Homo sapiens: one gene and its partners. The protein of the gene in region 1 purifies or fractionates together with the protein of each later gene. This does not show direct contact. Each region holds a gene or a part of one and is shown on either strand. Other genes may lie near its edges. The genes, in order: TIGD7, UACA and PRMT8.

The links.
Region 2: the proteins of TIGD7 (region 1) and UACA purify together in Homo sapiens (affinity purification with mass spectrometry; 3 studies listed by BioGRID and IntAct, with this or other methods). This does not show direct contact.
Region 3: the proteins of TIGD7 (region 1) and PRMT8 purify together in Homo sapiens (affinity purification with mass spectrometry; 2 studies listed by BioGRID and IntAct, with this or other methods). This does not show direct contact.

Annotation. Positions count from the first base shown.
Region 1 is NC_000016.10:3,296,759-3,305,599, forward strand, and holds TIGD7 (tigger transposable element-derived protein 7), read right to left. Parts: upstream 8,673-8,841; 5' UTR 8,454-8,672; intron 5,252-8,453; 5' UTR 3,857-5,251; coding exon 2,207-3,856; 3' UTR 2,050-2,206; downstream 1-2,049. Other genes in the region: ZNF263 (zinc finger protein 263), read left to right, coding at 2,348-2,352.
Region 2 is NC_000015.10:70,750,413-70,762,130, forward strand, and holds part of UACA (uveal autoantigen with coiled-coil domains and ankyrin repeats), read right to left. Parts: intron 1-11,718. UniProt on the Homo sapiens protein: Regulates APAF1 expression and plays an important role in the regulation of stress-induced apoptosis. Promotes apoptosis by regulating three pathways, apoptosome up-regulation, LGALS3/galectin-3 down-regulation and NF-kappa-B inactivation.
Region 3 is NC_000012.12:3,562,011-3,573,728, forward strand, and holds part of PRMT8 (protein arginine N-methyltransferase 8), read left to right. Parts: intron 1-6,695; coding exon 6,696-6,838; intron 6,839-7,423; coding exon of another isoform or gene 7,424-7,466; coding exon 7,467-7,554; intron 7,555-11,718. UniProt on the Homo sapiens protein: S-adenosyl-L-methionine-dependent and membrane-associated arginine methyltransferase that can both catalyze the formation of omega-N monomethylarginine (MMA) and asymmetrical dimethylarginine (aDMA) in proteins such as NIFK, myelin basic protein, histone H4, H2A and H2A/H2B dimer.

The DNA of each region.
Region 1 (8,841 bases):
CTTACAGCAACAACAAACCTACCTAGGAACAATAAAAAAAATGAGAACTCCATTAAATGAAAACTGCACTTACAATTTGAAAGGAGAGAAAAGTAATGTAAATTCTTTCCAATTTTACTTAAATTAGGAATAAATTCGCAGAGGGAGTTGGTGTCTGGAGGAGGCTTGAATAAATTTTATGCTGAAGTTGACTTAAGATAGTAAGAATAGCTTGTATATTTTCAAACATGGAAAGTGGGCATTTGCTTTTCATTAAAATTCACAGGCCGGGCGCAGTGGCTCACACCCGTAATCGCAGCACTTTGGGAGGCTGAGGCAGGCGGATCACGAGGTCAGGAGTTCAAGACCAACCTGAGAAACATGGTGAAACCTCGTCTCTACTAAAAATACAAGTCAGGTGTGGTGGCACGCGCCTGTAATCCCAGCTACTCAGGAGGCTGAGGCAGAATTGCTTGAACCTGGGAGGTGGAGGTTGCAGCGAGCCAAGATCGTGCCACTGCACTCCAGCTTGGGTGATACAGCGAGACTCCATCTCAAAAAAAAAAAAAAAAAGAGAAATTCATATTAGCCAGTAATGAAAATGGCAAGGTACTAGAGCAAGAGTGGACCCCAGTAGTTCTGTATTTAGTCACTAATTTTATACTATAATTGCCTAGTATTCACCAGTGTAACAGAATACCCATCTCAGAAACAGATTCTTTTTTTTTTTTTTTTTTTTTTTTTTGAGACGGAGTCTCGCTCTGTCGCCCAGGCTGGAGTGCAGTGGCGCGATCTCGGCTCACTGCAAGCTCCGCCTCCCAGGTTCACGCCATTTTCCTGTCTCAGCCTCCCGAGTAGCTGGGACTACAGGCGCCTGCCACTGCGCCCGGCTAATTTTTTGTATTTTTAGTAGAAACGGGGTTTCACCATGTTAGCCAAGATGGTCTCGATCTCCTGACCTCGTGATCTGCCCTCCTCGGCCTCCCAAAGTGCTGGGATTACAGCCGTGAGCCACCGCGCCCGGCCAGAAACAGATTCTTGAAGATAATATATGAGAAAGGAAACACTGAAAGCCAATAAGAGCTAATTATCCAAACAAAGCTTGTTATTTGCAAATATCAACTCACCTGACACCTTATATTAAATAGGGAACAACCATAAAGATACCATTCTTTTGGTTACAAAATTAGCAAAAACTAAGAGCTTAACAATATTCAATGTTGGGATTGGTGCATTGGGAGAAGTACTTTCAAAATAATGGTGGGAATGTGAAAGCAATTTAACAGCGTGTATCGCAGCTTTTTCAAAAGTTCATTCTATTTGACCTGGTAGTTCAACTGATACGTTACATCCCCTGGTGGAGTATTAAAAAACCATCAAATGTGAGGTTAAGAGATTTTAATGACCTAAGGGAAACTCTCAGAAATAGTGCCGTATGATGGTTAAAAGCCTGAGCTTTGGCATTAAACAGAATTTAAGTCTCACCTCTGCTGTTTACCAGTTTATGTGACCTTTGTCGAGTTACTTAATCTCTCTAAATCTGTTTCCTTATGTATTTGAAAAGGGAAGTCATTATTATGAAGACTAACATATATATACGATCCTATATACTCAATAAATGCTAACGTATTAGTAACAAACCATAAAATATGTTAAGACAGTAAGAGATAAGGTTTTATTTACAATGTAATCTGCCTATTTAAAAAATATATGGTATACACCGAAGTGTTGAGGTTATCATTAGTCAATAGAATTGAGTGCTTTTTATCTTTTTTTATATATTCCCTATAATCAGCATGTTACTTTCACAGTAAGAGGAAAACAAACACTAAATAGGTAGTAACAGAGTTAAGAAAGCAGAGTGTGTTTTACCATTAAATTGAAAACCTAATTTATCCTTATCTTAAAGCTAACTAGAACTAGTCAGCACAGTTTCTTTGTTATACGATATGATTACAAACTAATGCTTTTCGCAAAGGCATTCCACCTTAGATAATCTGGGACAATACTTCATTATTCAGATCCTTGTGTAAAATTTAAAAAAATGAATTTATGAAACACAAATTTAAATAAATTTAAAGAAACACAAATGTATTATTTTCAAACTGTAAATTTTATAACCATTATATAAATGGGCACTGATATACAAAATAATGTCAGTTGCTAAAACAAGACAATTCACAGCTGGCCTACATCATATAATGGCAGAAATCTTTAAACACAAAATCTAATGATTAGAACCAGAAGTTGAAGGCCCACTGAAGGAGTCCTTAATATTATGAGGCCTAGGTTTCAAAAAGCTACCAATTCTAGAATGGATTTTACTCTGGAACTGTTTCTTGACTATTTCTTGTTGCATCTCTTTCAGTGTGAAGTGGAATCTCTGAAACTCAGGTGTGGCATCAACAAAGTCAAGAAGGTAGTCCAAACTCTCTCTTACAGCAGATAATTTAAATTCAGCAGTCTGCTTCTCAGCTTCTCCTCCTTTTTGAACAACTTCCTTTGTTATTCCACCTTTGGTTTTTAGGAGACAACCCTTTTCTTCATCTCCATTTAACCACACCCTATCATCATCCAACTTAGTTTCCAACTCCCCACATTTTTCAAGAATTTCTCTATAATCCCCATGTTCTAAGCCTTGAAAATCATATTCAGGTTCCTTTTTGTAAAGAAGATTTTCCCATGCATTTGCTATGGTTATTTGTTTTACTTCTTCCCAACTTTTTGCCCAGTTAAAAATTGCACTTTTTATATTGTAGATTTTAATTTTGGAAACTCCTTTATCTCCTTTCTCTTGCTCATCATCACTTTCTTCAAATATTACAAGACTCTCTTCAAGTTGCTTCCATCTATACAGCCGTTTGCAGCTCAAGATCACACCTTGATTCATTGGTTGAATCAAGGTTGAAGTGTTATGGGGGAAGAACATACATTTTATTCGACCATCCTCACTGGTTAGGGATTCAGAGGAAGGATGAGCCGGGCAACTGTCCAGAAGTAACAATGCCCTGACGTCCTCGTCATGAAATCTTAGAACATTAAGTTGAAAATGTCGGACCTCAGGAACAAAGTTTTGAAAAAACCATTCTGAAAACAATTCTCTGGTGAACCAAACATCTTTACTGGGTTTATATATCACAGGCAATGTACTTGTGTCCTCTTTCACACTTTTGGGCAGTTTTGATTTTCCAATAATGATTGACTTTAATTTATGAGTTCCGTCTGCATTTGCACATAAAAAGGCAGACAACCTTTCTTTGTTTATTTTCTTCCCTGGTAGGCAGATATCTTTCCTACTTGCCTGAGAATTTTCTGGCATTGACTTCCAAAAGAGGTCTGTTTCATCCCCACTGTATAGCTGAGCTAGACACAGTTTCTCCTCTTTGATTATCATGGACAGTTTTTGTCGAAATGGCTCAACATTTTCAGAAACTGAACTTAGGACTTGTTCCCCACATCCTTTTCGGTTCCCAATTGCATGCCGATTTCGAAATCTAAAAAGCCAACCAGTGCTAGCTTTGAAATCTGTTCGCCCAAAACACCGTGCAAATCTCTCTGCAGCAGCCTGAAGCTCCACGCCTCTTACCGGAACACCGGCTGAGCGTTTCTGTTGGTACCACATGTAGACCGCATCATCTACATCACCATATTTGGCTCCCGTTGTCCTCTTTCTCTTCTCAGCCCCTACTAATGGCATGTCCTGCTTCAGTACAAAGTCCAGAATTAACTTCTTATTTTTTTTAATGTCATAAAATGTTGACTTACTGATTCCAAATTCATCCATTACACTTTTAAGTGATCGTCCAGCTTCAATTCTACTTAGAACCTTCATTTTCTCCTCCAAATTCAGTGTTGTATATTTCCCTCTCTTATTCATACTGAATTTAACTCTGAACCACCAACAGGAGAAAACAAAGGGAAAAGCCTTAATGAATTGGCAAAAAAAAAACCCACATTTTTTAAACAAAACTTAGCTGAAAGCCCCAGAAGGCATGGGCATTGTATTGGAGGATAATGGACTGAAGGGGCTAACCATGACTGAAGAGCTAGTCTAGAGGTGGAGGTCTTATGCACTCAGAAAGCTGCCAGTTGCAAAGTCCTGTCTGGCTCTTGCTCCTGCAAGCCATGAGTGATCATTTTTCAGAATGCCCCCTACCTCTCCTCTCTTTTGACAGATACAACAGCCTCAGTCAGGAATGACAGGAATACCTGCATACTTTCCCTAACTCAATACCGGAAAACGGACAATATGAAGAGAGGAGGGATGGAGCAAGATGTGCCCACAAGACAGGTGTGATAAGTTTCCATAAAAACTGATGCTTCAGAAGAAGGGAGCGTGAAAGACTCAAAGGCAATGACAGAGTAATCTTGTGTGTAGCAGAGATGCAATGTGGCTTCTCCCCTTCCAAAAAGACCTGATTTTACCTCACTGCCAGAAAAGAGAATGGTGCTCAAATTGCTTTGTACATAGTGTTCACTGGGCAGCAGTTCATCTACCTGGATAAGGGCTCCGAGCTACAGGGACCCTGACATTGGGATGTATGGAGAGTTGGAATTCAGGAACAGTTGTACCGAATCTTGAAGTGAAGAAGAAAGTAGTTTGTTGTACATATGAATGAAATCCAACTTTTATTGCATTCAATATAGTATTGTCAAGCACCGTGCTTTAACTTGAATGTCTCTTGTGTTTGCCAAGGTAATATGTAAGTATGTAAATAATTTATTTGTCAGTGGCACTTTACCATTCTCAGATCTTCTTTCTTGGGAACATCTGATTTATTCTCAAGTGCTATTTTTCACTGAAACTGTTCTCTATTTGAGATATTATCAAGTTTCAGAATCACAGCAATTCTCAGAGATGAGCCCAAAAGTTTTACAAATATTTCACCATAGTTAAAAATTTTTAAAGATCTGTCCTTTCATTTGTTTTCCTAAATTTACACTATAAGTAACATACTTTTTATATTTGAGATTTTGATTTCTCTTCAGTGTTTATTTTACTTAATTTGAACCAAGACTCAACTTTTCCACAGAAGAAATCTAAAAGGTTTCTCTGCTGCTGTTTCTGATCAATTGTTTCTCATAAATCCTACTGGCAAACTCTTCTGTCCCTCTAGGCCCTCAAATACTCTTTTCGGGTCCTCCTGGTGCTCCCCAAAGCCATTCCAGGTCCTTAGAAATGTCTTAGTCTAGATTAATTTCCTGGTTCTCAGTCCAGATACACAACCTCATGGGAAGAAACAAAAACTGCCACTTTTATCCATTCCAGGTGCTACGAAGAAAGAAAAGTATGTCAGAGAAATAAGGGAAATGGCTGGTATCTCAGTTATTCTTCCTCTTCTTTAGGGCAGAATCTGACTGGCCCATTCATTCCTCAACTACATAGAATTCTCTCTCTTTTTTTTTTTGAGACAGAGTCTTGCTCTGTCACCCAGGCTGGAGTGCGATGCCGCCATCTCGGCTCACTACAACCTCTGCCTCCCGGGTTCAAGCAATTCTCCTGCCTCAGCTTCCTGAGTAGCTGGGACTACAGGTGTGTGCCACCACACCCGGCTAATTTTTGTATTTTTTTGGTAAAGAGGATTTCACTATGTTGGCCAGGCTGGTCTCGAACTTCTGAACTCATGATCCGCCCGCCTCAGCCTCCCAAAGTGCTGGGATTACAGGCGTGAGCCACCACACCTGGCCCATAGAATTCTCTTAGGTCTCTCATCTAAAAACCCAGAAGAGTCAGACCACTGGTTTTCCTGTAACATTCATTGCAAGAAATGCCAACTATGAGTTATAGAGCATGGAGAAGATTACAAGAGAATATGGTAGTAATTAGGGGGTGGAGCCAATGGCAGGCTACGATCAAGCAACTTTCTAAATGAGGCAACTATAATTAAGGCAGTTAGTAAGTGATAACTCAGACATAAATCTTGGTTTATCTCTTTCACTTATAAATAGAAAAATAAAAAAGTATTTGCTAGCCAATAGCAGCACCATTAACTCAAGCTAGTCACCTAGCAAAAATATTCAGGCCACTATGACAGTTGTGTAGGTGTCTCAGAATTAATGTATTTGCTTTCAATGCTTCTCAGCTGTGCCGTCGTCTTTTTTTTTTTTTTTTTTTTTTGAGATGGGGTCTGGTTCTGTCGCCCAGGCTGGAGTGCAGTGACACAATCTCGGCTCACTGCAACCTCTGCCTCCAGGGTTCAGGCCATTCTCGTGCCTCAGCCTCCTAAGTAGCTGGGATTACAGGCACGCACCACCATGCCCCGCTAATTTTTATATTTTTAGTACAGACAAGGTTTTGCCATGTTGGCCAGGCTGGTCTCGAACTCCTGACCTCAAGTGATCCACCCACCTAGGCCTCCCAAAGTGCTGGGATTACAGGTGTAAGCCACTGCGCCCAGCCACAGTCATCATTTCTAAAACAGTGCCCAAGCAAGGGGAGGTGAAACCAAAAGGAAAGGCTCAAGGAATGTTTGTGGGCTTCAAAGGATAAGCCACTATGGCAGCAAACCTCACACAATGAAAATCACCAGTGCCTCTTATTCACTATTCACAATTTGTGCCTTGCTGCCTCTTTTTCCCATGAATCCCTTTTCCCTTTAACCAACTTCCTGTGTTATGAATCAGGCCTGTCAATGATATCCAAGGGCACTGCTTAGCACTGCTAGCAGAACTTCACTTATTCAACTTAATAAATTCTAATTATATATTCAGCATTGGGCCAGGTGATGAGAATCTTAATGCTGATGGCGCTACTGTCCACTGGTTCTGATAGACTGAGAATATTTACTGCTGAAGAAATGAAGTCCCAACCTGGCTGAGATTTTAAGGAAATGAACCTACTTAGACACAAATTCAAGTGACTTAGGCAGATGCTCATTATTAAATCTGTTTATCTTTCTCTCTCACTTAAAAAGGATCAAGATCTATGCCTAAGAGGAGTTACATACCATCCCATCCAAAAGCAAAAATAGCATAATGGCCTGGTAATGGCCTCTCATCTTCATTCTCACCTTAAACTTACCTTAGATGAACTGCCATAGAAAGCAGCTCAGTCCAAAACGCTCAAATGGTGCTCCAGGATTTACTTTTTTGTATTGTTTTGTTTTGTTTTTTGCGACGGAGTCTCGCTCTGTCGCCCAGGCTGGAATGCAGTGGCGTGAACTCGGCTCACTGCAAGCTCCGCCTCCCGGGTTCACGCCATTCTCCTGCCTCAGCCTCCCGAGTAGCTGGGACTACAGGCGCCCACCACCACGCCCGGCTAATTTTTTTTTGTATTTTTTAGTAGAGACGGGGTTTCACCATGTTAGCCAGGATGGTCTCGATCTCCTGACCTCATGATCCGCCCGCCTCGGCCTCCCAAAGTGCTGGGATTACAGGCGTAAGCCACCGCGCCCGGCCAGGATTTACTTTCTTAAATGCACTCTTTTCATTCCCATTCAAAGGACTCCAGTATAAGTGCCACATAAACTCGTTTTCTAACTTTTAAAACTCTTCCTCTAAATGCAGCCCAACTCAGTAAAAACGTACCTAAGATCTCACAGTCTAATGTTTCCAGCTTTTAAAGCCTTTACTCCTACCCTTCCCTCTGCCTGGAAAGTGTCTCCATTCCCTGCTGTGGACAAAATCCCTCAAGGTCTTTTATAATTTCCCCCAACCCCAAATCAACTTGGATTTTCTTGGAGTTCTCACAGCATTCAGTTTATGTCCTATTCTTACCCTTGTGTTACTGATATTCACGAAATTGCTCAGTCCTTTCAAGAGATTGCTTAAGGACAAAGACTTCTTACTCAACTCTGCAATATTGGCTACACATAGCTGACTTAATAAATAGTCCCTTGACTGGTATAAGCTGACGTTACAAAAACTGGTAATTCCGAAACCACTCATACTGGACTTATTAAATAATCCCTCAACTGGTACAGACTGACATTACAAAAACGGATTAATTCAGAGATCACTGAACACCCAAAACACTCAGATTCTTATAACTATGATTCAGTAAATATGTGTGGAATGCCTATCTTACCAGGTGACTATGTTAGGCGCTGCATGAGATATAAGATGAAAACAAGGTTCCCATTTTCCAGGGAAGAATACTGGAGTGGAAAACGCAGAGGATACCACAACAGGAGAGCTATTTCCGATTAGCGGCCGCCACTGCTGAGCTATGTGACCCTGAGCAAGTCACTTCTTAGGTCTCCGTTTCTCTGTCAAGGAGAGATAGAAAAAGAACCTATTTCACAGGTTCAAACCTACCTCAAGAAAAAATAGTTGTGGGGAATGCGTCACGAGACCTAGAAAACGGTACAAAACCCTCGGGGGGCCGCTGTTTCTGACCTAGCGAGTGGCCCGACCCGGACAAAATGCCTCTTCCTCGAGGAGGCGGCGACGAGCCCAGCAACAGCTCGAGCACGGCCGGCCGGGCCGCGGGAAGCCCGAGAACGCGGCGCGCGCAGCTGGGAGGCGACCCTTACCCGGCGAGGCTCCCGGGACCAAACGCCGCCCGACAGCCACGCAGAACAGACGCGGCAGTGCGACGCCTCCCCCACTGGGGACACGAGACAGCGACAGCCACGCGGTGAGCCGGTACAAGGCCCTCTAGGCTTCAGCGGGTCTGGATACTCGGTGGCATTAACCCTTCCCTACCGCCGGGGAAGACAGCAGTTTCTCTGGCGAGGAAGTAGGCCGGGCTCAGGCGCCTTAGCCAGAGGGCGGGCCTGCGCCACCCTCGGAAAGCGTCACTTCCACTTCCGGCCGGCGCTCTGGCTCTGTACCTGGACAGGGCTGCGGTAGGCCAGCGGTGGGCTGGCGGTTGCGCTCCTCAGATCGGCGGCCTTTCGGGCGGTGGCTTGCGTTTGAGCC
Region 2 (11,718 bases), on another chromosome or scaffold:
TAGGATCCTCCCTTGCTATTTTTCTAGTATCCAATTTCCCCTTCCCCCAGCTCTGAGCTCCGTGATATTTCCTCTTCTCTATGCCTTTGCTCTTGTTGTTAACTCTGAAAGAAATTTAACCTTTCCTAGATCACTCCTATCCACTTCTTTCAAATCTCAAGAAGCTCACCCTGGCCAGGTGTGGTGGCTCACTCCTATAATCCCAAAACTTCAAGAGGCTGAGATGGGAGGATCGCTTGAGCCCTCAGGCGTTCGAGACCAGCCTGGGCAACACAGTGAGACCCCTGTCTCTACAAAAAATAAACAAAATTAGTCAGGCATGGTGGCGTATGCCTGTAGTCCCAGCTACGCACTTGCTGCAGTGAGTCAAGACTGTGCCACTGCACTCTAGTCTGAGTGACAGAGCAAGGTCCGGTCTCAAAAAAAAAGGTCACCCTGCAGATTGGTGTCTCAGGAGCTAGAGAAGAGTAGGTGGAAAGCAGTTGCTTAATGGATACAGAATTTTCTTCTAGAGTGATGAAAATGTTTTGGAAGTACGTAGAGATGGTGGTTATACAACAATGTGAATGTATTAAATGTCATTGAATCGTTCACTTTAATATGACTTATTTTATGTTTTGACAATCTCATCTCAATTTTTAAAAGACAGCAGCAGCAGCAGCTTATCCTACAAAAAAAACCCTCAATGACTCCCCACTCTTCTGCCCCAGACTAGATCAGTACCTTGTACAGTCCTCTATCACAGCACTTATTACCTTATATTATCTGCTCATGGAGCTCCCCCACAAAACTATGAGCCTCTTCTTATCTTCCTCATCCTCTCACCCTGCAGTGCTTAGCCCAAGTGCTCAATAAATTTTTTTCATAATTGAAAAATAGAGATACCACTTATCTCCCTCAGGAAAAGGGCTAAAGCAGGTGGACTTTTGAAGATCTAGGCTATATAAAAGCCTATTAATTGGAAAGGAAAAGATTAGGAAGATTGCTGTCAATCTGGTTATAAAGGACAACAATGGCATGACCTCTGGTAAGACTTTTCAGTTAGCAATATAAACATGTATTGAGTTACCTATATAAAGCACCGTATTAATATGCAAGCCCTTAATATGCCTTGTATCATTTAATGCTCACAACTACTCTATGAAATAAGTATAACGATTAATCCTATTTTCCAAATGAAGAAACAAACATATTTAAGTAACTTGCCTAAGGTCACAAAGCTGGTTACCAGGAGTGGCAAGGCTCACACCCAAGACGTGCAGGCTGCAGAGTTTGACCCTGTATCATCAATGTGCTAACCTGCACCTTCATGCTGCTCCAGGTATGATTTCAAGAGCTATGAATGGACATTCTCTGGCCCACAATTGTCTTTTCTAAGACTGAGAAACACTTCATTTTCCTTGTTTACCTACTTATACATGGCCATGAATGCTATTTATATTTCATAAAGTGCTTTTTTAAAATATAAAATGTTAATTTTTAAAAAAAAACAAAGAGAAGAATCATTTAAAAAGGATTTGTCATTTAAAAACCTCTAACATGGCCGGGCACAGTGGCTCACGCCTGTGGGAGCCAGCACTTTGGGAGGCCGAGGCGGGCAGATCACCTGAGGTCAGGAGTTCACGACAGGCCTGACCAACATGGAGAAACCCTATCTCTACTAAAAATGCAAAAAATTAGCTGGGTGTGGTGGCGCGTGCCCATAATCCCAGCTACTCGGGAGGCTGAGGCAGGAGAATCGCTTGAACCCGGGAGGCAGAGGTTGCGGCGAGCCAAGATCACGCCATTGCACTCCAGCCTGGGGCAACGAGAGCAAAACTCCATCAAAAAAAAAAAAAAAAAAAAACTTCTCACGTGTAAATCAGGAAGTGTTTGTGGGCTATTCTTATACACAGCTGAAAAGATCAGAGTGTACTGGCTTTACTACAACCACACCCACAGGGCCTCCCCACTGGGACTCATTTTCAAAGTACCTCAACATCTGCACAAAGTAGGCACCCTGCTAATGCGAAAACCATATGAAATAACAGCATGCTGGAAGAAAAGTTAAACACTCCTACTTTTTTAAAAGTGTAGAAAGCATGATGTATTATATGTGTTCTTGTTCTCTCTCCCCTCCCCCCCACCACTTATCTCTCTCTCTCTCTAGAGCTCTCTTGGAATGTCTCTCTCTAGTAAAGAGAAAATGTCACAATCTGGTAAGAAGAAAATTAAACAAGAGTCAATGAGATTTTTTTTTTAAAATGATTTGTGCATCTGCAAGGGAAAACCTTACTACAGAGGTAATATAAAAAACCTTGACAATATATAAATATGGTCAATATTAAAAACGCATCATCTCCTCAAAAGTGTACACAGTTGTAGATACACACACACACACCCCTCCAAATAAAACCAAGGATGACAGTATAATATACTGGGTAAGTATACATGCATACAAAGCAAAATGACAGAAGGGGCAGTGTGACAGTATTAATATCTAACAATGTAGAATTCAAAACAAAAGTTATAATGCAACAAATTAGAGGCTTTTATACGACAAGTTACACTCTACAATGAATATAAAATAGCCAAGAACCTTAATGTATCAATTATCACAAAATTAAATACATGAAACAAAAACTGTTTTAAATATCAGGGAAGGTAACAGAAGCACAGCTATAGTGAGACAGACATTACTCTAAAGCGACGGCTGGCCAAGTAGCAAAAATAAGGACGTATAAAGCTCTTACAGATCAACATGAACAGGGCATCAGCAGAAAAAATGGTCAAAGAAAATGAACAATTCCTAAAACAAGAAATGAACGCAGCCAATAAGCACAGAAATATGTTCACCCTCCCTGGAAATCAAAAACATGGATTAAGCCAAACTATTTTTTTCTATCACATTTAAAAATGTTTTAAATAACAGAATCTATTATTGGAAGGATATCAGGAATGCAACAATTCCACATATCTCTGGAGGGAACACAGATTGGTTTTGGAATTTCCCATAAAATGCCTCCTCTCTCCCCTTCTCCAATTTTTTTGTATATATGGCTTAAGGTGTAAATCCCATAGCATTAAATTTGAAACATCAGTTCACAATGGTAAGGACATGGGTTCCAAAGCCAGGCTACCTAACTCTTCACTTATTAGCTATAGTGTCTTGGGCAGGTAAATTATTTAACTTGCATCTGAAATGATGGCAATAGTACCTACTTCTTAGGGTTGCGGTGAGGATTGAGTTACTAGCACTTAGAACAATGCCTGGGAAATACATGCTCAATAAATCTTGGCTATCAGCACATGGATTTCTCACAAGCAGTTTCTTTCTAAGTAACTCACTAGCATTTACTGAGTACTTCTAATTGGGACATTTGTATGTGCTCAAATAATTTCAAATTACTTATAATTTTTTTTGTTGCTGTTGAGACAGAGCCTCGCTCCATCGCCCAGGCTGGAGTGCAGTGGCGCGATCTCGGCTCAATGCAAATTCCGCCTCCCAGGTTCACGCCATTGTCCTGCCTCAGCCTCCCGAGTAGCTGAGACTACAGGTGCCCACCACCATGCCTGGCTAATTTTTGTATTTTTAGTGGAGACAGGGTTTCATCATGTTGCCCAGGCTGGTTTCGAACTCCTGACCTCAAGTGATCCGCCCACCTCGGCCTTCCAAAGTGTTGGGATTACAGGCGTGAGCCACTACGCCCAGCCTATATTTGGTTTTCTACAATGAACATGTATGACTTTTGTGGGACAGTCATTTATCCTAACTGGTTGAGACATTCACCTGCGCTCTCTCAAGGATACCTGGCCAGGTCCCATTCAATTACAGACAGTCCCCAACTTATGATGGTTAGACTTAGGATTTTTTGACTTTACAACAGTACAAAAGCTACATGCATTCAGCAGAAACTGTATGTACTTTGAGTACCCGTACAACTATTCTGTTTTTTCACTTTCAATAGAGTATTCGGTATTGAATTCATGAGATATTCAATACTTTCTTATAAAATAGGCTTTGTGTTAGATGATTTTGCCCAACTGGAGGCTAAGTGTTCTGAGCATGTTTAAAGAAGGTTAGGCTAAGCTATGATGTTGTGTAGGTTAGGTGTCTTAAATGCATTTCGACTTACAATATTTTCAACTTAAACTGGGTTTACCAAGACATAACCCCATAATAAGTCAAGGAGCATCTGTATAAAAATACAACTCATCGATCCTTTGCCAGTGCCTTTGGTCACTCAGCTACATCAGTTCATCTTCTGCATATCATCTTGGAGACTGTATCATTTGAAAATAAGTCAATGTCAACAATATTTAGGATTTCTGACAATAAAACAAAGCCAACAGACAAAACTGTTTGTGTGACTACAAACAATCCAATTTATTCTTGTGTTTTGGGGCTACATTTTTAAGCCTGGAAGAGACATTATCTTTTCTAATGATATAAAAGCTATATAAAGCTTTTAATTGTATTATGATTAAGGAAAATAAGGCAATGAGTATTATATCCTATTGTTCCATTTATAATTTCAGGCAGCACATTTCAACCATCCATTTTTAGGCAAATTCCCCACAGAAATCAATTTGACTTCCTTTGCATAAATAAGCACGTGCAGGTGGAAATTTCAATAATATGCTGTATCCTTTAGGTGGCAGGACAAACATTTGCAAAACTGTAACAGGACAGTAAAAGTTTCCATATGATAGTGATGAAACAATACATGTTATAACGTTCAAATCTATTATTCTTGGATCTAGTTTACCAAAGATACAAACATAAGTTAAACAGGGCTGATAAAATCAAAATTTTGCTGGCTATTAGCTAATTCTAGAGAGGAAGGGAGAAGCAGAAAGATGAACTTATAAACTCACTAATAGGATAATTTCTGAAGATGAAACTTTCATGACTAGTCAGTTCTCTCTGAACAGTGATCTAAACTTGTCAAGTAATTTAAATTTTAATTCAAGGTTTAAAAAAAAAAAAGAATGAGGCCGGGGGCAGTGGCTCACGCCTATAATCTCAACAATTAGGGAGGCCGAGGTGGGTGGATCGCCCGAGGTCAGGAGTACAAGACCAGCCTGGCAAACATGGTGAAACCCCATCTCTACTAAAAACACAAAACTTAGCCAGGCATGGTGACAGGAGCCTGTAGTACCAGCTACTCGGGAGGCTGAGGCAAGAGAATCTCTTGAACCCGAGAGGCAGAGGTTGCAGTGGGCCAAGATTGCGCCACTGCACTCCAGCCTGAGCGACAAGAGGGAGACTTATTCTCAAAAATAAAAAAAAAAAAGAATGAATGAAAACCTTCCTTTACCACAATCCCCAAGCTGCACGCCCTCTAACTCCCTATTTTCAATAGAATTCTTATTTGAAGATTTGTCTATGCCTCATCTGTGCCATCCTCTACCATAAAACCAGAATTAGTTTCCAAATCTGATGCTCCCTCAGCTGTATAATTTCACAGCTCCATACCACTGCATTTGCTCTTCTTTTGCTTGGAAAGCCACTGAAATTGTCTTTCTGGCCCAAGCTCACACTCTACCTTTCAACCTTTTTATGGGCTCACTCTACACTCTATGTGCCCCCACAGCAATTTATACCGACTTCTATAATAACTGTTAACATGCCATATTCATTTATTTTTTATATCTAGCTCTTAAAATTCTTGAAGGCTGTGACTAGCTCTTTCTAATTACAGTACAGAAATTTTAGGACATACGCTAAATACAACAGTATCACAAAAGTGAATAAGCATCATGAACCACCCAGCCGCAATTTTTTTTTTTTTGATGGAGTCTTGCTCTGTTGCCCAGGCTGGAGTGCAATGGCATGATCTCAGCTCACTGCAACCTCCGCCTCCCAGGTTCAAGCAATTCTCCTGCCTCAGCCTCCCTAGTAGCTGAGACTACAAATGACCATGCCCAGCTAATTTTTGTACTTTTAGTAGAGACAAGGTTTTACCATGTTGGCCAGGCTGGTCTCGAACTCCTGACCTCAAGCGATCTGCCCACCTCGGCCTCCCAAAGTGCTGAGATTACAGGCATGAGCCACTGTACCCAGCCCCAAATGCAGTTACTAACTCAAGACCAATCCTATTGCAACTATACCCCCAACTTACTATCCCCACCCACCCAAAGATTATTTTGAAGGAAATCCCAGACTCCAAAATATTTCTTTGAAAGATAAAGACTCAGCTGGGCGAGGTGGCTCATGCCTGTAATCCCAGCACGTTGGGAGGCCAAGGCAGGTGGATCACCTGAGGTCAGGAGTTCAACACCAGCCTGGCCAACATGGCAAAACCCTGTCTCTACCAAAAATACAAAAATTAGCCAGGCATGGTGGCGGGCAGCTGTAATCCCAACTACTCGGTAGGCTGAGCCAGGAGAATCACTTGAACCCGGGAGGCGGAGGTTGCAGTGAGCAGAGATCACACCACTGCACTCCAGCTGGGGCAACAGAGTGAGACTTCATCTCCAAAAAATAAAATGAAGGATAAAGACTCTTTATAAACACAGCCACATTACTACCACTGTCACATTTAAATGTTTCAAATAATTCGATATCATCAAGTATCCAGCTGATGATTATATTTCCTCGATTGTTTCATAAACTTTTACTTTTTACAAGTAGTTAATCAGGATCTAAATAAAGTCCATCACGGCAATTGGCTAGTATGCATTTTAATCTCTTAAATCTCTTGTAATCCATAGGTTTCTCCTCTTTTTCCTTTTCTTACAATTTATAATTTTTAAGAAACCATTTCATTTTTCCATAGATTTCCACAATCAGAATTTTGCTGATTGCATCCCTATCTTCCTTTGTTCCCTGTATGACAATAATCAAAATTATTGTATGACAATAAACAAAATCATGGTTATAGCTAAAGGGTGATTATTTTGGCAAGACTATTAATAGGTGGTAATAAGTATTTCCACCACAAGATATATTATGCCAGCTTGTCTTTCTTTTTGAGACATTAGTAGCCTCTGACAATCATGTCTATAGACTCTAGATTCATTAATTCATTAGGAGCTGTAAAGTTATGATATACTAACTCTATCACCCCTTCTTCATATATTAGCTGGGACAGAATACATGATATACTAATTACATCATCCCTTCTTCATCTATTAGTGGCAGTAAAGTATAACTAAAACAGACACTTCCTCTTATCAGCTATTTGGCTACCTTGAGATACAGTTCTCACAGGAAATGCACAATAAATGTTTTATTATTTCCCTTTATTTTCCTGATCTTGAAAGAATGCATCACTTTCCTAGCATCCTCCAAAAGTCAAGAGTTGTTTTTATTCTTTTGGTCATCATTACAAACTCATGGATTTAAGGATTTCAGTGCACTACAGTTGCTATTCTTACTGATGATCAAACTGTCCCATCTTTGGGCAACTGAGAGCCTCTTGGAGTTGGCTCCAGAGTCCTAATCTTTGACAGCCTCTTTACACTCCAGCATGACAAGGGCACTCCAAGTTCATCCTCCACACTTTCTGCTTTCAACTTGGAATTATCCATTTCTTCGAAGAGGACCTAATTAATCCATTATTGAGCCTATGTGTTCCATAAATGTTTTCCAAACTAAATAAGGCAACTGCTGAGCAAAGTCTACTTCCTGAACTAATCATTTTTAATTTGAACAATGCATATGATGTACCATAAGTATATATAATCATTACACCATCCTTATTAAAAAACTAATTAAAATCCTTTACTCATCACCTAAAGTTCCTGGACTCATTATGCACCAAAAGACCCACCAAACCACTCTGCTTTGGTATTACAATAAAATTCAGCAATTCAAATCAACATAATGTTCTGAATAAACTTGCTGCAGGGTGAGGGTTGAAATCAAAAACTATAAAAGAAGGGTTTCTTTATTGTAATCCTCCTTCAAGAAGCACAAGAAATTCAACGCAGGGATAACCATAGGAAGTTGTCTGAATACAGCTTTAATTAAGGTAAGCATTTTTAATTTAAGGTTGGAATAGTTAATGACAATGAGTAAACAGTGCTTAAGTATCATGAGTTTAAACTAAACATAACAATTTGTTATCTTATTTACATTACCCAAAAGTCGCTGTTATGAGAATAACATTAAGATCTTTTCAAATGCACCCAAATCCCTCAGTGGAAAACACAAAGCCCTCATTCTCAAAATCAACAACTAAAACAAAATCATGTTTAATCCTTTATGCTTTCTAAACATCTCAAACTAATGTTATTAGTGGAAACAGAAAATGTTTTTGAAGATTTTTTTCAGTTGCTATATTTGTAACTCTAAATTCTTTTAGAAATACCAGTATTTTTTCGCAGTGCTGAGGCATTATAGCAAGATGCTTTAAAACATATTTAGTTCTGATTTATAAAATTCACTGCCCCATTTTAAGAGCAGCCTAGAGAAAGGGCAGCAAAAATAATCACTACAGAACCTCTCAGGTCAGAGATTACTTCTACAATCAAAGTACTCTGCTACGACTTTGTTTGTTTGTTTTTGGAGACAGGGTTTCCCTCTATCACCCAGGCTGGAGTCACAGTTCACTGCAGCCTTGACCTCCTGGGCCCAAGTGATCCCCTCACCTCAGCCTCCCAGGCAGCTAGGACCACAGGCATGCACCATCACGTCGGGCTAATCTTGTATTTTTTGTGGAGATAGGATTTCACCACGTTGCCCAGGCGGGTCTCGAACTCCTGGGCTCAAGCAATCCAATTTAAAGTGGAATCCCCTTCTAAAATGTCTGCTTACAATATCTGTTTGCAGCACTTCTACTACTTCTGGAATTACAGTCCCTTAATTTATATTAAATTTCCTAAACTAGGTGAAAATGGAACAAGCATATTCTCACTATACATATAACTGAACACACAATTAACCAGATCTGGTACAGTATTTATAGTCATCTAATTATCCCTTTTAGAAATCCGAAGCTCCAACTTAGTAAGTGATTAAAAATAAATGTAACAGGCTGGGCACGGTGGCTGATGCTTGTAATCCCAGCACTTTGGGAGGCCAAGGTGGGCGGATCACCTGAGGTCAGAAGTTTGAGAACAGCCTGGCCAATGTGGTGAAACCACCTCTCTACTAAAAATACAAAATGAGCCGGGCATGGTGGCAAATGCCTGTAATCCCAGCTACTTGGGAGGCTGAGGCAGGAGAATTGCTTGAACCTGGGAGGCGGAGGTTGCAGTGAGCCGAGATCACGTCATTGCACTGCAGCCTGGGCAACAAGAGTGAAACTCCATCTCGAAAAATAAATAAATAAATAATAAATGTAACAATAAAAACACTCTTCATTTATGGTTAACAGATGCAGCCATCTCCAGATTTGCTAGTAAAGGACTAATCCACAAATGTAGTTTATCCAGAATTTGTAATTGTGAACTACATTTATATGTGTACAAACATTCCCATTTAGTAAACTCTAAATTCATTGGCATATTTATAACAATAGTACTATTCAGAATATTCAAAATTACTACTTTTGCCCATAATCTGCACATAATTCTAATTTAGCATGCTAAGCTAATATGCTGTATTCCACATATTATGTAATAAAATACTGCATATGTCACATACCTCAGTCTACTGCTGTGTCTTCTTCAGATAATAAGCTTAAATACACAAAGGAAATTATTTATGAAATAAACATTTTAAAATTTTATCTCAAATCAAAGTTGTGCAAAGTAAATAGTGACTATTTCCAAAATAATTAAATGAACAGTTTAAGACCCAAATTAAGTACCCATAGAGGAAAGAGAAGAAAGTAAGATGTACTTTAACACCATAATAAGTATCTTATGTATCAAAGACTTAAATGTAAAAAAAGAAAAAAAACTAGAAGAAAGTTGGGGAGGGGGGTTGTTTAATATTAAATATCGCAGAGTGGAAAGGCCAAGATATTACATAAACCTAAAAATCATAAAAGGTTATAAATTCAATTGTATAAAAATAACCACCTTCTCTGCACAGCAAATGCCACCATAAAAATGTCTTAAGACAAACAGCCAATTAAGAAATAATATTATTCAAATGAAAAGGGCTAATTTCCCTGATATAAAGTATATACAAATGAATAGGGAAAAATATCGACAACCCAATAGAAAAATGGAAAGGACAGGCCAGGCGCAGTGGCTCACGCCTGTAATCCCAGCACTTTGGGAGGCCGAGGCGGGTGGATCACAAGGTCAAGAGATTGAGACCATCCTGGACAACATGGTGAAACCCTGTCTCTACTAAAAATACAAAAATTAGCCTGGCGTGGTGGTGCACGCCTGTAGTCCCAGCTACTCAGGAGGCTGAGGCAGGAGAATCACTTGAACCTGGGAGGCGGAGGTTGCAATGAGCCAAGATGGTCCCATTGCACTCCAGCCTGGCGACCGAGCGAGACTCCGTCTCAAAAAAAAAAAAAAAACAGAAAAAGAAAAATGGAAAGGATAAACTGTTCTTACCTATCAGGCTAGCAAAGGTCAAAAACTTTGAACAGACTTCTATTAAAAGCTTGGAAAACATTTCTCATATGCTGGTTCCATGATGCATGAAAGGAAACTTGACAACATCCTTCAAAATTACAAATGCACATATCCTTTAACCCAGCAATTCACTTTTAGGAATTAATCCTACAGGTACAGACACACACTTGAAATATGAATATTAATCACAGAATTGTACATTACAGCAAAAGATATGAATGGGGAGCCTCTATTTACAGTTTTAAAAAAAAAAGTCCAAGATATGAAACAGCAGCTACAGTGTGCTAGCATTTCTATAAAGGGTGACTATATTCATATTTGCTTGTATATGCTAAGCTCTCTCTGGAGGAACATGCAAGCAACTGTATCATCAGTGGCCTCAGGAAGTGGGGGCAGGGTGGCTGAAGCAGGGGTTAGGGAAACACGGTGTCGATATTTTGTTGTAAATATTTTTATTCCTTTCCAATATTAAACCATGTGCTATATTACCTATTCAAAAAATAACTGTTTTTAAAGGCAAAAAGAAAAAAAAAAAGGGTGGCCCAATCATACAATAAATACATATACATGTGACCAAATCTGGGATTATGGTTTATAGATTGAAAAGCAGAAAGGGTCTATTTCTCCTGTACATGTGTTTTATTCTATCAATGCTTGGTTTGGTTTTATTCATCACTACAGTTTTATTTTAAAATTTTACAGAATTCATTCTAAGTTTTATTCCTCATTACGCTTTTATTTTTAAATTGTACAGAACTTATTCTAATATTTAAACAGAAATGTTTGCTTTTTCTACATAAATAGGTTAATATCATGTTTATCTTTATTATGTCATTTTGAGAAAAATAGAACGCTCAATTGAGTGCTAAAGATTTAAGCTCAGAGATATGCACTTTATGTTCCAAATGTATAAAATGCAAACTATCATGCTGATAATACCTACTAAATACTCTGCATTTCTAGAAAACTGGATAAAATTAAGGCATATAAACCTCCAAGTGGGATTTACATCCTTAGTGCAAATCAAACACAACCAGGGAAAACAAAGCTAATAAATCTAGAAACTTGTATCTTCTATAAGGCTAAAAACACAACTTGCATTACAGAAGTAGAATCTTAACTGTAATGAACTCCAATATCACTAAATGACATTTCTGCCAGTTACTTTTTTTAAAAAAAAAAGTGAAACAAAGTAATCTCTGTTTTCCATGAGCTTATAAAACGACTTCATGCTTTATCAAAGAACATCAA
Region 3 (11,718 bases), on another chromosome or scaffold:
TCTATACCACAGAATTCAGCAAAGGCGACAAACCAGGGCTTCTATCTCCTGGAGAGCCGGTTGTTAAGTATCTCCAGCACACCACTGTATAAAACACAACAGCATCCGGTGGGCACTAAGCAACCAATAAACATTAGCGGTTGTTATGATTATTCCGTTTATTAACTTGACTAATAACCATATCAAAAAAAGAAATGAGACCAATCATATGTAATTATTTTTAATGAGCCTGTAGTAGTGACTGCTGGCAACTGCTACTTCCTTCCCTAACAGCTCGAGAAACAACCCATTAATAATCTTCAAAGTGAGTTTCATGTATTCATCCTTTCGAGTATTATTGAGCCACGTACTAGGTCCTGTGTCGGGCATAGGGGAGTTCGTGGTGTGACTAGCACAGACAACATCTTTGCTCTCATAAAGCTTACAGTCTCGGGGGAAGACAGACATGAAGGCAAGCGAACAAACAAAATCACAACATCATCACAAACTGTGAACGTGCTTAGAAAAAAACAGCATGGAATAATTGAGAAAATGGGGATGTGTTTTTTCCAATTGGGTGGTTGCAGGGGCATGCTGGCTGTCACACACTGCCTGCCAAGAGCCAATTGCGTGCGCTCATCTCTTCTCAACTCTGCCTTGAATGACATCATCTGTGTCGTTAGCTTGAAATTGGCTATGGTGGAAGTATTTACACCACGGACATTGGCGGATGCTACAAACCGGAGCTGTTTTGTTTTCCCTTCTGGAGACCTAAAGGTGAAGATGGGGCCATGCTGAGAGCAGTGGGAAGAGCGTTTTACCTGCCTGTATACATTCCCTCAGGTGGGAGATACTTTCTGTCCCATGGAAGCTTCTGCTGCAGGGAGAGAGTGAAACCATTCCAGATAGAGAAACTTGGAATGGTTTTCTGAATACCTGAGCCCTGGGGAAGCTTTGGTTGCCCTTTACATTCCCATTGATTTCAACCACTCTACCCAGTACCAGTGCCTTCTTGATAACCCCTGCTCCCCTTTGGCCAAGCCCACATGATCATCTGCTTGTGGCCATGGTGCTGGGTATCTGCCAGGCTGGACCACAGGTGGGGTTCTAAGTGGTGGGTGATGATCTCGGGTGGGAAGAGTCCTGGTATTGTTCTGATTCACTGAGTACTCCAGCCACTGCCTAAGGGAGGAGAGAAACCAGGCAGGGTCTCTGGCCAGGGAATGGCTCTGGCAAAGCTAGCAGGGCTTTAGAGCTCCAGCCAAGCACGTTGGGCCCTGAGCCCTCAAGAGAGCCAGAGCGGGCTAGAACATGAAGCCAAGCAGATTACACAGTGAGGACAAAGCAGACCCTCGAGTCCTATGTTCTCGGGTGAGTGGGGGATTTGGGCAGGGAGAGGGGTACTATATTGTGGAAGCGACCACCCTGAGGCTTCATGACACCGGGGGCTCCCTTATGCCACTGCAGCAATAGGGTCAGTTTGCTGCAGGACATAGTCCCAGTCCCACCATTCATGGAGGGTAGAGATATCGACATCCTTTTTCCCATCACTCCTGACCAGCCGCAGGAGAAGGGTAGGTTAGTCCTTTGCCTTCTCTGATTTCTTTTCTCTCAACATCCCAAGCAGTTGCTCCATGTCCACAAGAATCCCAGGTGGTAGGGAGGTCAGATATACACCCATTTGCCGGGTGAGGAAAGGAACCACGGAGAGGCACAAACATGCACAACAGGCCTAGGTTCAGCCCCCACAACTTGACTTCTCTAAACTCCAGTTCACTCCTTAGGCAAAAATAATAATAAAACCAAGCACACAAGTTCCTAGGAGGATTACTGAAGTAACATACGGAAAATCACTCTGCAAGCTGCTATTCAAATGCTAGTAATTTTTTACTGTCACAATTAGGACTAGTTTGAATATCTTTTGTCTCTTAACCCAATGCCCCCCACCTTTTTTCCTTCAACATTGCTCATTCATCCATCCATTCATTGAGTAATGATTCTGAATGTTTGTGAGGAGTCAAATGCTCCGCTATATCCTGGAAATAGGAAGCTAAAATAGACAACGAAGAGAAGGAATGCATACGCTGGAGGTGAGCCGGGCCCTCCGCAGGTGCAAGGCAGCCAGCATGGGTGTCACCAAAATAGGTGTATGAGCAAGGACCAAGGGAGTGGGGAGGGCGAGCGAAGGGCTTTGCTGCAGTGGGGTTGGCAGGGGGGTCAGGGGGCTTCATAGGCTCATAATATGTTCCCATGCCTGTGACCCTCATGCCTCCTCTTGTGTGGCACAGGACCTGCTCTCTGAAAGAGTGAGGACCTAAAAATGATCACTAACTTCAGATCCTACGGGCATCAGCTGACCCTGATGGATGCACTGGAGGCTCAAATGAGGTTGAGCTGGCCTGATTTGTTTAAAAACAAAAATGACCATTAATGAGAATGACTAGATTTCTGTAAGAACCACTCAAACCAAAAAGAAAAAATTCCACTCAAAACCATTTTTAAAAATCTGGATGTCTCACTTACAAACTTGAAGCTACAGGAGAAGTTTTCCCAATTTAGAGTCTATTGCTCCCTGCTGTGCATTTAGTTCTGATTAATCATTCTGTAATTTACCAGCCAGAGTCCTGTCATAGTTCGTTGAACAAACTTTCCATCATCCTTCTGGAATAAAAACATGGATCCGGACGGTGACCTCAGTGCAACCTTGAGTTGATGCAGTTTTAGTGACTTGGGGTCCAGATTGGGCATGGAGCTCTGCAGCCTACGGCTGCTCGGAATCTTAATATCAATAGCTTAGACCCCCTTGAAAATCCTTTGCATGGAGGAGAAGGGAAGACTGCTGCTGTGTGTGCCCACACACTTCCTTGAGCCAGCCTAATGCCCTATGTTGGCCAATAGCCCCTAGTAAGTTGGCATATGCCCCACCATGACAGGTAGCATTTTGTAGATTGGAAAATTGAATCTGGAAGTTTAAGTGGTTGCTGGTGGTGACTACAGACTGCAGGAAGAATATTCATGGTGATTCAGCTGGACAGTTGTATTTGGCTGCACAGAAAGAATGTGACCTCTTAAAAATAAAAAATAAAAGGACCCAGGAAGTGTTGAAAATGACAGTCAAACTGGAACTTGGAGGCACCATCTTTTTTTATTGATGCCAGCTGTCTCCACCAGTGAATCTTGCAGAATGCCTTACACATAACAAGTGCTCAGTACACATTTGAAGAACCGCAGCTTTCTGGCACTGCAAAGAATTTCAGATTCAACCTCCCTTCTTTTTTTTTTTCCTAATGAGGAAAATAAAAGAGAGGAGATGTTTGATTGAGATTAGCTGTCACCTGGAACAAGAGCGTAAGTTGCTGCCTTTTAGGATTCCAGCATAAAGTTGTGCAGGTTGAGCACAAAAGCACCGGAGAAAGGGGATAAATGGAGTCTAAAAGCCAGTCCAGCACTGGATTGAAGGGAGATGGGTCCTTTTCCTTTGACAAAGGGCTCATCTCCTCACCAAGCCAACTGTGGGGCCATGTCCACACTGAGAAATGTCTGCACTTGAATAGATGTAGAAGGGTGATGTTAAGAGAACAGAAGTCCAGACTGTTGAGGATTTTATAGGGTTAACTGATTCCTTCTGCCTTTTTGCAAGCAGAGATTGTGATTTTTGCTATTCTGTGACCCCCTATATCTAGCTATCATCTATCTGTCTTCTATATCGTCTGTCTATCTATCAATCATCTCTTGTAATCCATATTGATGAGGTTACAGCAACTAATTGATAAGAGGGCTAACACAGAGAACATGAGCAGCAGTAACTCTCTTTGGGGGACACCTGAGGAATATTTCATACATACCTGTTTGTTAGACTTGATGATGGATTACTCCTTGTCTGTTTCCTGCAGCTCCTAATAGAGTCCTGTCCACAAAAATTGTCATGGGTGGAGCCTTGTACTAAACACTCAGGGTAGAGGTCATGAGGCCCCGGAGGCAGGAGAAAACATCTTCTAGGGCTACAGAGAGGTCATGATATAAATGCAGGAGGAGGAACTGACCCATAGCCACACAGACACAGGCAGACATTAGGGAAGAACCTTCAAGAAACGTGCAAAGAAAAAAAAGTAAGGGAGGCCATTAAAGACAATTTTTAAGTTTACAAAACTAAGGCAAGCCAGGCTTTGCATGCAAATGATTAGGCAGGTGAGTCATGCATATATTTGTCAGTTCTCTTTCAAAATAAGAAATAAATTAGGCACAATGTTTGCATTTTAAAAAATCCTTTACTTTGCCACTCTATGAATTTTCTTAGTGCACCCTGGGCCCTGCTCTCAGTTGAGTTCCTGCCCTGGGGTCTCTGAGACCCAGAGAAACTTCAACACCTACCCCTCCCACTCCCACCAAAACTTTTGGAGAATAGCTCTTCCTGCTCATACTTTTTAATGGTAGGGGCTTTTGAGCAGTAACCAGTCAGGAGGGCCACCCAAGACTGAACCTCACTGTAGAGTGACCAGGGTCAATGCATGTGTACAAAGTGTCTTACTCCTTGTAGAGCAGGCTGTATCCAATTAAAGCTTGATTAAATACCACATAGTGGAGAGTAAACTGTTATTAGAAGCTGCTAATGGACACTCCATCACCTGCATTATTCACTGTGAAGAAACTAAATAAAGCCAGCAAACGGTGTGCTCTTTGCCATCCAGGAGCCTCAGTCCAAATTAATTTTCATGAAACTCAGATTCTAGGCAGATGTGGTTCTTTTGATTTTTACTCCTAAGTACAGGCCATTGTTTGTTTTTCCCAGCAAAGCTCAGGCATTGTGTGAGTTTTTTTCAGAGGATATTGCAGAATGAGAGTTTCAGAGCATGAATATATGTAACCTTTCAAAGGAAATGTTCAGAAAGAACAAACCAACCAATACATCAGCCTGCCAATTTAACAGTGGTATCTAAACTAGCTTGCTCAGATCTTTACAGCAACAAATACAAAAAGGGACTCCAAAATTATGTGTATGTCTATGTCAGTTTATCAAAAACTCAACTAAGAAGTGTCTCCTCCCACAGAGGAAACTGAAGTTCTTGAAGGTGACTCATAAGAAGAAGCCACTGGGGACAGGGGCTTTGACCCTGGCCCTATCTGCTTCCCCTCTCCATCTGTGGATCAACAAGCAGGAATATGTCAGATAATGTCCACCTTCTGTTGAGCTTTAGCTATGGGCCTGGCACTCCACATGTGTTATTTCATTTGATCAATACAATCACCCTCTAAATTGATATTGCTTTTCATGGTTGTTCACTTGGGAATTGGAGTTTAGTTAGGTCAAGTAACTTGTCTAAAGTCGTACAGCTAATGGTGAGAAGATCTGGCACTTAAACCTAGGTTTCCCTGACTGCAGAGCCCATGCTCTCATCAAAATATCAATTTCCTCCCTCACAAACACTAGAAGGGCACCCATTTGGTATTGAGCCTGGCTGTGAACAAATGCAAAAGCAATAGAGGAGGCATCTATGCTTTCTTTGAGTTTGAATTGTCATGGTAACCTAACATAGGGGTGGGGGCCTTGAGAAGAGTTTTAGAGTCATGTCATATCAGATCTGGGCTCTGTTTCCACTGCTGCTACTCAACCTCTCTAAGCCTCGGTTTCCTTAGTTGTAAACAAAAATAACAGTTGACCCCGACTACCACAGGGGTTAGGGGTGCCAATCCCCCACACAGTTGAAAATCCAAGCATAATTTTTGACTCCCACAAAAGTAAGCTACTATCAGCCTACTGTTGACCAGCAGTCTTGCTGATAACTTGGTCAATTAACACACATTGGCTGGCTGTGGTGGCTCATGCCTGTAATCCCAGCACTTTGGGAGGCCGAGGCGGGTAGATCACCTGAGGTCAGGAGTTTGAGACCACTCTGGCCAACATGGTGAAACCCCGTCTCTACTAAAAATACAAAATTAGCCGGGCGTGGTGGCACATGCCTGTAATCCCAGCTACTTGGAGGCTGAGGCAGGAGAATCGCTTGAACCTGGGAGGCGGAGGTTGTGGTGAGCAGAGATCACGCCACTGCACTCCAGCCTGGGCAACAAGAGTGAAACTCCGTCTCAAAAAAAAAAAAAAAATTAACACATATCTGGTATATGTATTATATACTATATTCTTACCATAAAGTAATCCAGAGAAAAGGAAATTGTTAAGAAAATCCTAAGGAAGAGGAAATATATTTACCACTCACTGAGTGGAGTGGATCAGCATGAAGGTCTCTGTCCTCATTGCCTTCACATGGAATAGGCTGAGGAGGAGGGAGAGGAAGGGCTGGCCTTGCTGTCTCAGGGGTGGCTGGAAGAGGTGGAAGGGGAGGCAGGCACACTTGGTGTAAATAAAAAAAAAAAATCTGCGTGTTCGTGGACCTGTGCAGTTCAAAGCCAGGTTGTTAAGGGTCAGTTGTAATGTGCTTACCTCACAGGGCTGTTGGAAGGATGACGTGATACCACGCATATAACGGGCTTAGCGCTATGCCAGGCACATAGTAATGGCTCAATTTATTTTACAGGGAAAACATGCAGGTAGTTTTCAATTATGTTGGTATAAACTAGTTTGGTAAAGGGTGAGCTACATCATATCCTAAAAGTAGAATCAGAATAGGGCTGAAACCTGGAGATCTGGCCCTGAAGTGAGGTGCTTGTGGTTCCTGGGTGGGGTCCCTGCAAAGTATGGCCCTGGGGTTCTTATTTTCCAGTCATCACCATATTTAAGGGTAAAGTGGAAGAGGTGGAGCTGCCTGTGGAGAAGGTGGACATCATCATCAGCGAGTGGATGGGCTACTGTCTGTTCTATGAGTCCATGCTCAACACGGTGATCTTTGCCAGGGACAAGTGGCTGGTAAGTGTCCTGCATGCTGTCCCCGCGTTGGCCGGCTGGCTGTCCTGCTCCTCTACCCAAGGCCTGCAGCCTAGGAGGCATACGAAGACTTCAGAGAAGACTGAGGCCAGGAGGTCACTGCCCCAAGCCCCTCTCTCTAGAGCAGATCTGTATCAGGGAACAGAATGGTTGCCCCGGGTCCAGCATGTGTAACCATCAGAGTGGACTTCCGTGGGTCTCACCGCAGCCTCTTTTGCAATAACAGACATCCGTTCTCTCTTGTCGAGTTAAAGGTCCGTTTCGGTCAGCAAGTACTTAGGACTTGCATGGCTGCCAGAGCCAGGTGTGCTATTCATCTGGGCTTCTCCAGGCCAAAGTCGTAACATCTCTCACTGCTCCTCACTGGATTTACCTTCACCTCACCTCATTTGTCCTATTGACTCCACCTAGGTCCCTTAAATTTTCCTTGCTCCAAAATAAAAATTGAGCACTGCTGTCCTAGCCCTCACCCCAGACAAGGTGACAGTCCACTGCATGAGAGATGGTGGCAAGGGGGTGCTTGTCTGGTGACTCTATGTGCAGTTCAAAATGTGATGTCTTTGTCAGGTGAATAGATTACGAGACCCATTTCCCCACAATTCATCAACAGAAACCTGGAGGGCTTATGTTTCCAGACCGGGCAGCTTTGTACGTGGTAGCGATTGAAGACAGACAGTACAAGGACTTCAAAATCCACTGTAAGTCCCCTCTTGCTTCTCCGGTGGACTTCCACTGCACAATTGGGGTGGGAGGCACTCCAGTGGGCCCGAGATGAGCAGGCAGTGACATGAACACCATTGCTGTCCCTGAAGAGGAGCTTATCTGGGACCCTTTCTGGAGTCTGCTCTCTAAATGTTTCTATCTAGTCCCAAGGGTGTTAGGTCTACAGACAGAAAATAAGCCATATGGCTGGGATGAGAGAAATGTCCTGGGGTGAAAGAATGAATGCAATGTGAATTAAAAATTGGACTGAGGCAGCAGAAGCTGAGTTTTTGCAGAGATCAGCAGGGCAAGTGGCTTGAAACCTGTCAAGGTTCAGTTAGCCCAAAAGTCCACCGCAGGGGTCTGAAGTAGCAGGTCTCTTGCCAGGCCAATTGTTTTGAATCCTGCCTCCATTCCATTCAAACTTATCAAAATAATATTGATTCTCTTATGCAAATACATATTATTTGAGGTTCTTTTGAGGAATAGATAGCAGAGGGGGTGGGAAAGAGTGGAGATTTTGCTTTGAACAATCAAACGAAAGGCGAGTGTGCATGTGTGCATGAGGCAGGGGCTCGTATCTAAACATGTATTCTTAATGCCTTATCAGCTAGGCGTGTGTGGTTCTCTGAGAACAATAAAGCCAAAAAACTTCTCCTCCCCCGCAATGTTTTACCTGGTCTGAAAAGGGCTGTTATCCTATTTCTCGTAAAGGGTGACACTTCTCTGTGACACAGGCCTGATCCTTAATGAGATTATACCAAACATGTTTTTGTAAAGTTGAACATGGCTGTGTCTCCTCAACCAGAACCAAATACAACAAAGGAGCAAAGAACCCCTCAAACAGGCAAACACCCAAAAATCCAAATTAAAGCAAGAGGCAGAAGCTCCAACCTATCCATCAGACTGGGCACATCTGCGGTTCCTGCCCCAACAGGGTGGTCCATTCCTACTTGGCAAGATTACTGTGGAGGGGTTCACAGATTGAGTAGAAGAATAAATGCCTCCAAGAGGCTAAGACTCCATCCACAGTTCAACAAATTGTGGCTCTGTGGATTTAAACAATTGCCATCTAATCGTCGTTAGTGGCACTGATGAAAACTCGGCTGGACTCTGCTATGGATGTGTGTATTTGTGTGGGTTCATGCCTTTCTGGAAATATAAACTCAAAGTGTGAAGTTCAGAGCCAGGTTCAGAAGAAGACAAAAGTGGGACAGCTGTTTGAAGCTCTGTGCCCTGGAAACCGTCTCTGGTTGCTGTCTGCCTCCAGCCAATCTGGTGTGATTTCCACTATTTGACCTCCTGGGGGAAGGAGGCAAAATACCAAATGAGGACAGTGAGAGGCAGGGGGGCCCAGGTTAAATGCTTTGCACACTGCCAGCCCTGGGTTTAAATCTTGGCTTTGCCATGTCCTAACTGGGTAACCTTGAGCAAATTATCTAATACCTTTGGGCCTCAGTTAAGGGATAATTTTCTCAATCCCACAGACTTGTCATGAGGATTAAGTGAGATGACATATATTAAAGGACGTGACAGTTCTTGGTCCTATAATGGGACTAGATGGGAACTAGTTTCTGACTGTGTAGCTAAGCCCCTTTCTGCCCCTGGCTCTGGCAAGTGAGCCTGACTGCCAAGCCCCTGGTGGCTCAGAATCTAGGACAGATGTACTCTCATGGAAGATTGCAGACACAACTCCACAGTGAGTGTTGATCAAATGCATGTATAAATAGGACATATTTTGCCCTGGAGCTGCATTTTGGAGTTCTTGCTGTGCAATTGTACTGAATAGTGTTTTGAGGAGGAAAGCTTCTAGGTACATTCTTCATTGTCAAGTTCACTTAGATATTTATTGAGCTCCAACCCGAGGCACACCTCTTTAAGAAACTTTCTCATGGTTTCCACAACAAAGATACCTGTGTCAGGAGCCTTTGCAGGTATGCACATTGCAATGAGCCAGCCTGGGGCAGGGAGGGGCTCCTAAGGCACTGGCCCCAGACTGGAGATCATGTGATTTCTTTGATTCTCATTGCAGTGTTCATACCTTTTGGAAAAGGAAAAAAAAAAATCTGAAAGTTAGCACCATGTTATCTTGTGCTTGTTCTAGAGTCTCTGAAAAATACCCCAACCTCCTCCCCACCCCAAAAGAACACCAAGAAACAGACACTTAAAATGTATTTAAAATACATTTTCTATTTACATTTTTGAAAATAATCTATTTTTTTGTAAAGGAAGCAAACCCACTTAGAAATTCATTTCAAATAAATGGAGACTTTGGTTACTATGAGTTCTAAATCAGAAGTAAAGCACAAAGGTTGCTGGTTGCTAAGGCAACAATTGTAAGCAATTTTCTATTGGCTCAAGAACCAGCTAAGAAGGAAAAATTTTGAAATGAGGCAGGAGAGTGAGACATGTTCAGCCCCTTTCAGAAAGTAAGTTGTTAGAGGGAGAGCTTTCTTTCCTTTCCTCTCCTTTCCTTTTCTTTTATTTCCTTCCCTCTCCTTCCCTTCCCTCCCCTCCTTTCTTCTTCTTTCTCAACCACACACAGCAACATGGGAGTGCAAGAATGAGGTCAGTGCAGAACCTGCCCTCCATTTGCTCACCAATGAATAGAGACCACATAGAGACAGAGATAAATATCTGGCATATACTAGGCTCACAATACATAATTTTAACGAAGGAAGGAAGGAAGGAAGGAAAGTGAACCAGCAGAGGGATGTGCAAGGTGTAGTATTTAACTCTTAGAGAGGAGCAATCATTTTACACACATTTTCTACTATAAAGGAAATACACAGAATTTCAAAAATGGAAGGAAACTCGGTGGATGTTCTATTCAATTTCATGCACAACCCATGAATTGTACCCAGTGCATGAATCTACACCCTGCTGAGAATGAGAGAGATGGGCACCAGTTTCTTGGCTGATGAGAAGACTGAAAGAAAGACCTCATGCAGAGGTGGCAGTGCTTATAGCTTGATGGTTGAAGGGCGGCCCTCTTGGATGGCTCAGCTGCTGTCTGTGGGCTTCACTTCCACTCATGACATCCAGAGTTTCCTCTGGTTCCAGCCCATTTTATGCAAGGATTCCACTTTCTTCATGAGAGCCTAAAATGTGTCAATCTAGTGTAAACACTTTCCCTTCTGCACAGAGGAGAATCTGTAAGTAGCATCTGGTGGCACTTGTTCTATTTTTCTCTGACCTCATTCTGAGGCAGTCCCATTAGCCTCATCAGAGAAACTCAGATGGTTGGGGCTGGGGTGGTGAGGGAGGATGTAGCTACAGCTCTCTGCAATCAGAAATCACATTTCTCCCCTGGTACTTAATTTTCTTTCCTCAGACTGTTTTTGAGATTTCTGTCTTTATTGATTTTCTGCAGTTTGATTCTGATGTGTCTAGGTGTGTTTTTCTTTTTATTTATCCTGCTTGGGGTTACATGGAATTCTTGGAACTGTGGATGGATTGTTTCGTTAGTTTAGAAAAATTTCAGCCAGTATCTCTACAAATATTTTTTTCTGCCTGATTATCTTTCTCCCCTTCTTCAGGAACTCCCATTATATGAAATAATGTTTGATATTGTCCTATGGAGCTTGGATCCTCTATTTTTTTCACCCCTTTTTTCTCTTTGTGTTTAAGTTTGGATCATTTTTATTGCCCCGTTTTCAACTTTATTGGTTATTCCCTGATATATTCATTCTGTTAATAAGTTCATTTTAAAAAGTCTTCTTTCCTTATATTGTTATTTCGATTTCTAACATTTCCACTGGCTTTTTTAAAAAGTTTCCATCTCGCTAATGAAATTCTCCATTCATTGATGCACACTGTCCACCTTTTCCACTAGCTTCTTTAACATACTTAGTATAGATACTTTAAAGTCTTGTTGGATAATTCTAACATCTGAGCATCTCTAAATTTGGTTCTATGACTTTTTTCTTATGATGATAAGTCATATTTTTCCCTTTCTCATGTGTCTTATAATTTTTCATTAATGCTGGGCATTGTGAGTAAAAGGACCAGTAGAGACAGGTGAATCACACCTATGTCCAGAAAAGAGCATTGCCTCTGCCAGGCTATTAGAATGAGGGTGTGTGTGAGTCAATCTAGTCTGTATTAATAGTAGATTTGGGCTTTGTTGTTGCTTTAATTACATACATTATGCCATAGTA